Linked DNA regions of Homo sapiens: region 2 is linked to region 1. Evidence: fine-mapped expression QTL. A gene starts in region 1. The other region holds a variant in brackets. All regions are shown on one strand. Distances are between the middles of the regions.

Region 1 (4,393 bases):
TACATTCTTACAGATTTAAACTGTACTGTTTCAGGCCCTGTCCACAAAATAAGGAAAAAACAAACCTGAACATACCAACCTTTCAATTAAAGAAACCACCTTCAGAATCAACAAAAGCAAACATTTACTGAGCAGTATTATCATGTTCTGGCACTTTTCTAAGCACTTAAAATGTATTAACTTATTTCAATCAAACCAAAACAGATGTGTTGAGTAAAAAGAGCCCTGGAATCACAGAAAATGTAAATGAGTTTTAGTTCCACTGTGAATTTTGATTTGTTTCCATAGCTCGAAATGAGGGGGTTTAATAAAAATGATCTTTAAAGGTCATCTCAAGGCTAAACTAAGATTCTACATGTAAAAATTTGGCCAATAAGTGTTAGTCCGGAAGCCTCAAGAGTGATGGGGCAGTTTGGACCATCTCAAAAACACAGAACCCTACTAAAAAAGAACGTATGACAGTGTGTCTCAGTTCCTCCTCCTTAATATATGTAAATTTCCTATCATGTTTTTTTTTAAAAGGCCTACATTTTTCTAATACTTGGACACAACTGATCAAACCGAGGCGAAGTGTGTACCATTGTAAAAGAAATCATTGAAGAGTTCCATTTGTTGTTAAAAGTTTCGGTCACTTTTAATAAACCTGGAGTAAACAAAAACTTAAACATTTTAGTCGAGTTCTGGGGTAAAAATGATTCTTCTAGTGTCTGGTTAAAGGGATCTAAGGACCTACTGGGATTCAGCAAAAGACGTTCCACGTCTCAAATACACCCAAAATCTCAATACAACACTAAAAGAAAAGTGAGGGGCCAGCACGAAATTTCTGTTAGGGGAAATTTCAGCTGCGTAGTTAAGGAAATCAGGACTTCCCGGTTAACTATGGGGTCTTTGCCGCAGCTCACAGCCCGACACAAAGCTACAAGCCCGGAGGGTCGGTGGCTCACGCGTGGATCGAAAGAACCACGAAGGTTTGGGGAATGACACTGACCTGTTAGGTTTACTTCATGTCTCACTTACCACCATCAAAAGAGGTTCATTGATAGCTTTATTAGCAAAATTAGTAACAGAGTTGCACGTCTGTAACACACACACACGCGCGCGTGCGCACACACACACATACACCCGTGGGTCTATGGGAACATTGAGGGAGACAATCTCCAGGTTAAAACCACACAAAAACTATTTGGGAAACACAAAGACGCAAGACACAAAACAAATTTGGAGTGCAAATGTGCAAGACACACTCAGTGGGAACACAAAAGAGAAAAGCACAGCGGCTTGACAATTGGGACGGCGCCCGGCCCCACGTGGGGCCCCAGGTGGCCCCACCGCCGCCCGCACCCGGCCAGTCTCTGCAGCCCGCACGCGTCCCCCGCGGGGCGCGCGGCTCTTCACGGCGACAAACCGAATCCCGAACTTCGCCGCAGGGACCCCACGGCCGACAAGGAGGAGCCCGGCGCCGCCACCCACCCGCGGGGCCACCGACCCGGAGGCCCGCGCCTCGTCCCGGGGCCCCCGGCACGCCCGGGACCTCTGAGGGGGCGCGTCCGCCGACCCGGCCATCCCTGCGGCGCCGGGTCCCCAGCGTGTCGCCGCCGCCGTCGCCGCCGCGCTCCTCGGGGGGAGGGACCAGCGTCCCGGCGCGAGCCCAGAGGCCGCCCACCCGCGCCACTCCTTACCCGCGCCCGCCGCGCCAGCGCCTCAGAGCACCGAGGGCCGCCGCCGCCGCCGCTGTTTCGCCGGCCCCGGCGCCCGCGGCCGCGCCGCCGCCATCTTGACTCCAGTCGGAAGTGACGTCGGGCGGCGAGGCAGTGGCCTGCGGGGCTGGGGGGCTCCGGGACCCCCGGTCTCCCCACGATCCCAGAGCCCGGCCCTTGACCCTGCGCCGTCGCCCAATGGCCACCACCCAGCCGCCCCTCGTAGGTCACCGCGGATCCCATGGCGGCGCCTCGGGAAGGAACCCCGGCGGCTGGCGTCGCGGCAAGTCCGACCGCACCCTAGGGCTAGGATCCTGCGTGGTTCAAAGATTCTCAAAGAATCAAAAAGACTGAAGGAGGTGTTGGGGGGGCATGTCTATCGTTGGAGGTCATTAAATATCTGACAAGTACATAAACGTAGACCTTATACTTCTACGTTTGGATCTATACCAAAAAGATCCAACTCCAGGCAGACAGACGCAGCTGCTGGGTTTATTTGCTGCCCTAGTACCCAGGAGCAGTGACCAACGCTGCCCTGTGCCCGCGATGTTCCAGTGCAGCGCCTCTGAGAGCGCGGTAGTAGTCCTGCCCTTAAGGAGCTTGCTGTTCCCAAGCGGGCAAACAAATGGACTGCAGAGACGACGACTCATAGATGTTCTGATGAAGATGAACTGGGTGGAACTGGAGATGGCTCTTCGACATCCAAGGGTGGAGGCCTAGCACGTGGTTGAAAATGAGTTGAGTCGGGGAGAAGCACAGGCTGGAGATGAGCTGGAAAGTTGGGAGTTGTCGTTATAGATGGTGCCTGGAGCCTTCAGCACTTCAAGATAAAGTAATCCTCTGAGAATGAAGTCAGGAAGAATCCGAATGTGATGGCTACGTTGGCCATCTGCAGAAAGCACCCAGTGGAAAAACAGGATACTAAGGGCAGGTGTGCTTCCAAAAATTATGAACGATCATTTATGTAACAGGTTTAATCTTAAGAAAACGTGTTGGCCGGGCGCAGTGGCTCACGCCTGTAATCCCAGCACTTTGGGAGGCCAAGGCAGGTGGATCACGAGGTCAGGAGATCGAGACCATCCTGGCTAACACGGTGAAACCCCGTCTCTACTAAAACTACAAAAATTTAGCCGGCCGACGTGGCGGGTGCCTGTAGTCCCAGCTACTCCGGAGGCTGAGGCAGGAGAATGGCGTGAACCCAGGAGACGGAGCTTGCAGTGAGCCAAGATCGCCCCACTGCTCGCCAGCCTGGGCGACAGAGACAGACTCCATCTCAAAAAAGAAAGAAAACGTGTTGTATCAACATATATCATGTTATCTTATTGTAAAAGAATGAGGCTAGGCCGGGCGCGGTGGCTCAGCCTGTAATCCCAGCACATTGGGAGGCCGAGGCGGGTGGATCACGAGGTCAGGAGATCGAGACCATCCTGGCTAACACAGTGAAACCCCGTCTCTACTAAAAATACAAAAAATTAGCCAGGCGTGGTGGCGGGCGCCTGTAGTCCCAGCTACTCCGGAGGCTGAGGCAGGAGAATGGCGTGAACCCGGGAGGCGGAGCTGGCAGTGAGCCAAGATGCCCCACTGCTCTCCAGCCTGGGTGACAGAGCGAGACTCAGTATCAAAAAAAAAAAAAAAAAAAAGAATGAGGCTATAGCTGATGATCGAGTCGGTTATAGTAAACAAATGAAGATCACCTCATTAGAGTAAATTTTATTAAGGCCTTGAGAAGTGACAGGGCTTAAGAAAATAAGGAAATAAATCAAACCTCAAGGGTTTGCTTATTTCTTCCGCTATTCAAGGAAAAGAGACCCTAGATCTGGGAGATACCACGTGCCTGTCATCAAAGTAGTATTCTCTGTTGTGGAGCAAAGTCATCAGACTTCTGCACCCCTTACCTAGATTAATACCTTCCAACTGGATCCATGCATCGAAATTATCTGGGGTATCTATGAAGAAAATAGGGAGACCCCACTGTTCCATCCACCATCAAAACACTGACATAGAAATCACCATTTTAAGAGAAAAGCTATGGGCCACCTGGCATTCAATAGAATGCAAAAGGAAAATAAAGGATGTTAAATCAGAAGTGGCACGGTGAACCAGAATGGATACTAGATGGTTGGTTAACAGAGTAGCCAGTAGTTGTCTTTCCGGTTATTAATTCATTAATCCAAAGTGACTGGCTATATTAGTTTCCTGTGGCTGCTGTAACAAATTATCCCAACCCTGACAACAGAAGTTTATTCTGTCACAACTCTAGAGGCTAGAAGTCCAAAATCAGTATCACTAGGCCAAAATTAAGGTGGCAGCAGGGCCGGGCTCCCTCTGGAGTCTCTAGCAGAGAATTGCTCCTTCCCTTTTCCAGCTTCTGGTGGCTGCCAGCATGCCTTGGCTTGTGACTGCATCACTCTATCTTCAAGGCCAGTATCTTCAAATCTCTATCTCCATCTTCATGTCATCTTCTCCTGTGTATGTGGTCAAATTCCCTCTGCCTCCCTCTCATAATGATACATGTGATTTAGGACCCACCCAGATAATCTGGCCATCTCAAGATCCTTCACTTAATCACGTCTGCAAGACTACATATGAAGTAGCATTTGCAGATTCTGGACGTTAGGGATGTGGATTTAGGTATGGGGCCATTATTTAGCCTACCACACTGGGTGTCTCCTCAGCGTTTCTGAGGTTCCCCCCAC
Region 2 (4,393 bases), 88 kb before region 1:
CCTTGGAACTAGTGGTTTTGACAAGCTCCCCAGGTGAAGTGTGGAACCCACGGTGTTGAAGGGCAGGGCTTGTGGCTCCCCGTTTTGTTAAGTCTAGCAGAATGGCCCATCCACACCTGCAAGGCCCTCGAACATACGCTCAACAGCAGTGCTTCACCAGAACCTTCACTGAGGCTGCCTGAAGCGGCAGCTGCAGGAGTGGTGCCATCAGGCAGGAAAGAGGCCATGAGAGCTGGGCCTGTAAAGGCTGACGGGGAACGATAAACCATTTTCTGTAACTATCAGCCTGGTCTTTGAAACACTTTAAATGTGGCCTTTATATCCTAGTCAACCCTTTTCTCATCCGCCTGTGCTCTAATCCACTTTCAAGGTAAATTGCCCTTTATGATTTTTTTTATGGATTCAAGTCAATATATTCAAAGCGAGGTTCAATATCAAATCAAAACCCACATGAATAAAATATCAAATGCATTAAGTGAGCTATAATTTTAGTAGAGTCATTTTAAGCTAAGTATTAAAAGCCGGCAGTCATCTAGATTACTGGCATTCAGATATTAAGCTAGAAGCATCTCCTTGTCCACCTAGCCTCTGGGGAACTGTGACAGCGAGGAGGTTTGGAATATGAAGTATAAAGTGGGGAAAAAAGCCACTATGAAAATACAAGCCCCACGGAAGTCAGGATTTTTGTCCATTTTGTTCAGAGATGTATCCTAAGCACCTACAACACAGCCAGGCATACATTAAGTACTCAATACATTAAGCTGGTTTTGTAAAATTATCTTGCTAGAAAGTACTTGTAACAACGAGGACAAGACAGCCAGCCTAGCAAGGCATTTACCAGAAACACTGTGAAATGTTTCAATGGTAACAGGGATGGAAGGCTCTAATTAGCTTTTGATTTTTTAAAAACGTTTAACTCTATCAAAGAAGAGCCAAAGCAACCCAAACAGGGCAGCTTCTCCCTTGGTGAGATGGATGTGATGTGGTTCCTTGGTGACTCCTCCAGTAAACATCTGAGTCCCTGTCATGTTCCAGGCAGAGCCAGGGACACTGTGGAGACCGAGCCATCATCCCACTCTTTCAGTCCAGTGCTTGTGTCTGACAGCATCTTGATCCAGGAGAAAAGATCTCCTCCTAGAGGGCGCACTCAGAAACCAGCCAGTCTACTCCCCACTTTTTGCAGACTGGGAACTATGATCCAGAATGTAAAGGAACTTGCCCAAGGCTAAAACACAGAAGACGCAGCCATGGAGGGCGCTTGTTGGAGGCCCGTTTACTGAAGGCACAGGGAAGGGATGAACGGCCAGCAGATGGGTTAGGATGGAAATCCAGTTCTCATCCAAGACCGTGCTCTTTCTCACAACACTCAACTCCTCACAGGGCACTGCTGTGTGTTGAAGCCTCATTTGTTTAAAACTACTAATATCGAAGACCAGTTCCAGATTCCCACCAACCTCTCTCCTCCGTGTTTTTCTAAGGGAGGAATATCGTATGCCAGAACATCTGGCCAAGGGAAGCTGGCTATCCCTTCACCACCTTTCCCTGAGGAGTGACAGACAGATGTGGTTAGCAAAGTGCTATGATGATGAACTATAGGAAACCGCTTATAGTCAGCCATTTTTAATCTTAAAAAACCCCAGCAATTTCACATAAACTGAGTATGTCACAACTTTTTGGTTTCATTCTTTGGAAGCCCATAGAAATAAACATCAATCCACAAACTACAGTAAACTTTTAGGAAGCACAGAGACCCCACAGATGAAATTATTTTGTATTTTACTCTTACCCGAGTGAGTTCACAAGGTACTTCTCGGCACCGTTGTCTGACTACACGTCCACCCTCTACATAGAAATCCAACTGGAATGAGCACATATTCAGTTACTGTCAAATAGAAACAAGTGAACAGACGCCAGGTGGGCTGAGTAGACGCCGCACTTTTAAATTAGAGTGCGGGCTCTGAACAATCCTCCACACACACCTTGTTTTACCCCCTAACTGCTCCCAATTATGTACAAAATGCAGTCCTTTCACAGATGTTTAGAAAGTTTTTTATTGGTTACAATAATATAAAATGCATTGTTTAAATTCTCCTCTAGTTATTAAGTGTTTGCAGCAATAGCACAACAAATCTTTTTTTAATACATCTGACAAGCCCCAATGATTTCAATGCTGGGAGGGGAAAAACAACAAACACCACTCTTGTCTATCTATAATTAACCTCTCTCTCTCTCAGTGCTACATTGGTTAAAATCAATGGACAACCCCTTTTTGTATGTCAAA[T/C]TGTAAATTTTAATGTTTTCATTAGAATAGTCTTTTATAGCACTCTCCAAAAAGAAGCAATAAAATAACTAACAGCAAAGTTCAATACAGGAGCACTCTCCGGGTTAACAACGCCAACAAAAAAAGTGAAATGTAAATCACATATAATACAATTGAAGCGTCCAAAACAATTTAAATAATTTTAAATATTTTATTTTTAAATTGCTACAAATGCTTTATACAATATTTCAACATAAAGTCCCCATAACAGAAATGTAACAAAATGGGAATGATAGTGGAAGGATTAAAGTGGCACAAATTCACCAAACAAATATTAAACTACAAATTTTTCAGAGGTAGATTACTTTTGAAGTTGAGAACAAAAAACAGTATGAATAAAACCTAGCCGCTTTCCACCAACTCAGTCATTAATTTAGGGGGAGGCATAAAATGTAAGGATAAATGATATTAATATACTTAGGAAGAGGCCAATTTGTTGTTTTTAATCTCTATTAGAGATGCAAGTGTAAAACCTGGTATGCAAATTCATTTATACTTACGTGTAGACATACATCTGTACAGGCCTGGGATGCGCCTGTGCACTGATATATTGCTACATAGTCTCTGATAATATAATAGTTATAAATTAGTGCCAGATAAGAATCTGAGAGGATAACGTCCATTTGGATATACAAACGCAACACCAGAATAGGCATAAAAAAGAGTCCATATCCAATCTGGTTTCCTCTCCATTACGCTGGCAATCTACTTGTGATTTAAAAAAACGAAAACAACAAAAAAAAGAAATACCAGGGGTAAGAGATCAGCTAAATGCCTCTCTCTGTCTATAATTAATTTAAAAGAAAGGCATCAAGAGCTGATATGTGACCAAAACGTTTTAAATGAGTGCATCCAAATCTGTCATCCCTGAAACCTACAACAAACTACTGCTAAAACAGGCAACTTGCTTTGCAAGGTTAAGTTCAAATCAATCCTTTCTCTGCTACGTGCCAAAAACAAGGGCCATGCTCAGATCTGAGGTACCAGTCCCATGACGAGGAGCCAGTTCATCTGGCCTGTCTTACAGTGCCCTTCTCTTTGGATCTCAATCACCCGGGCGCCCAGCATGCGCGTTGGGCCCCCACCGAAGCAGCAGATGCCTGACTCTAAGCCTGCCGGCAATCAGCTGAATGTTAGGATTTTTGAGTCAGCTTCAACTGGTCTTGCAAGCTTGGTAGATTTCGTATCCTTTGCCGTAGTGCTTATCCTAAGTTGAGCATGCAATACTTTTTAGTCAATTAAGGTTTGTTTTGTTTTGGGGGCTTTTCTACAGGAAGTTCCTAGAAAATAAGAAAACTGAAGATAAATGACAACAGAACATAACCTTACATGATTGACCATGTTAAAGAAAAAGGTGAATAGACCGTAAGACAAATGTTATTAAGACGACAACACATACATGACTGAAGGCATTTAGGAACGAGCGTCCTACCCAGAAGACACACCCTGCAAGGAACTACACGCATTTATTTCCAAGGGATGTAGCAGAGATGGAGGCATGAGAAATTAGCACTTTTTTTTTTAAATCAATTCCTGGTAAATGGAAAAACTTGGTCTAGAATTTCATTTTGCTTCTCTACCTTTTTCTTGACTGCGATGGGAACTCGGTTTGAAAAGAAAAATGTGGCTCTAAAAGAAGCATTAAAGAACCCAAAAACACCAGGCACGGTGGCTCACACCTGTAATCCCAGCACTGCAGGAGGCCGAGACGGGCGGATCATAAGGTCAGGAGATCGAGACCATCCTGGCTAACACGGTGAAACCCCATCTCTACTAAAAATACAAAAAATTAGCCGGGCATGGTGGCGGGCACCTGTAGTCCCAGCTACTCGGGAGGCTGAGACAGGAGAATGGCGTGAACCCGGGAGGCAGAGCTTGCAGTGAGCCAAGATCGTGCCACTGCACTCCAGCCTGGGCAACGGAGCGAGACTCTGTCTCATTAAAAAAAAAAAAAAAAAAAGAACCCAAAAACACCGTGGGGTTTACAAAGGTGAAAGATGAGTAGGAGGTGAGTAGAGAATACACCTCTTTCCTTCCCTTTCTGCTTTACTGGAGCCCATGGAAATGAACCCT

What was found. PIP is the estimated chance that this variant, and not a neighbour inherited with it, causes the effect.
Region 2: its variant is the best candidate, but not a certain one, in a credible set for the expression of PRDM2 in whole blood (TOPMed, PIP 0.78).

What each region holds. Positions count from the first base shown.
Region 1 is chr1:13,697,587-13,701,979 of GRCh38, reverse strand. It overlaps PRDM2 (PR/SET domain 2), which reads right to left and starts at 1,792. Exons shown (of 10, transcript NM_001393986.1): 1 at 1,680-1,792. RefSeq lists a silencer at 1,270-2,039.
Region 2 is chr1:13,785,722-13,790,114 of GRCh38, reverse strand. The region is part of intron 8 of PRDM2 (PR/SET domain 2); the gene reads right to left. Among named protein-coding and RNA genes, the nearest start is that of PRDM2, 88 kb to the right of the region's middle. The variant T/C (reference allele first, on the strand shown) is at 2,282.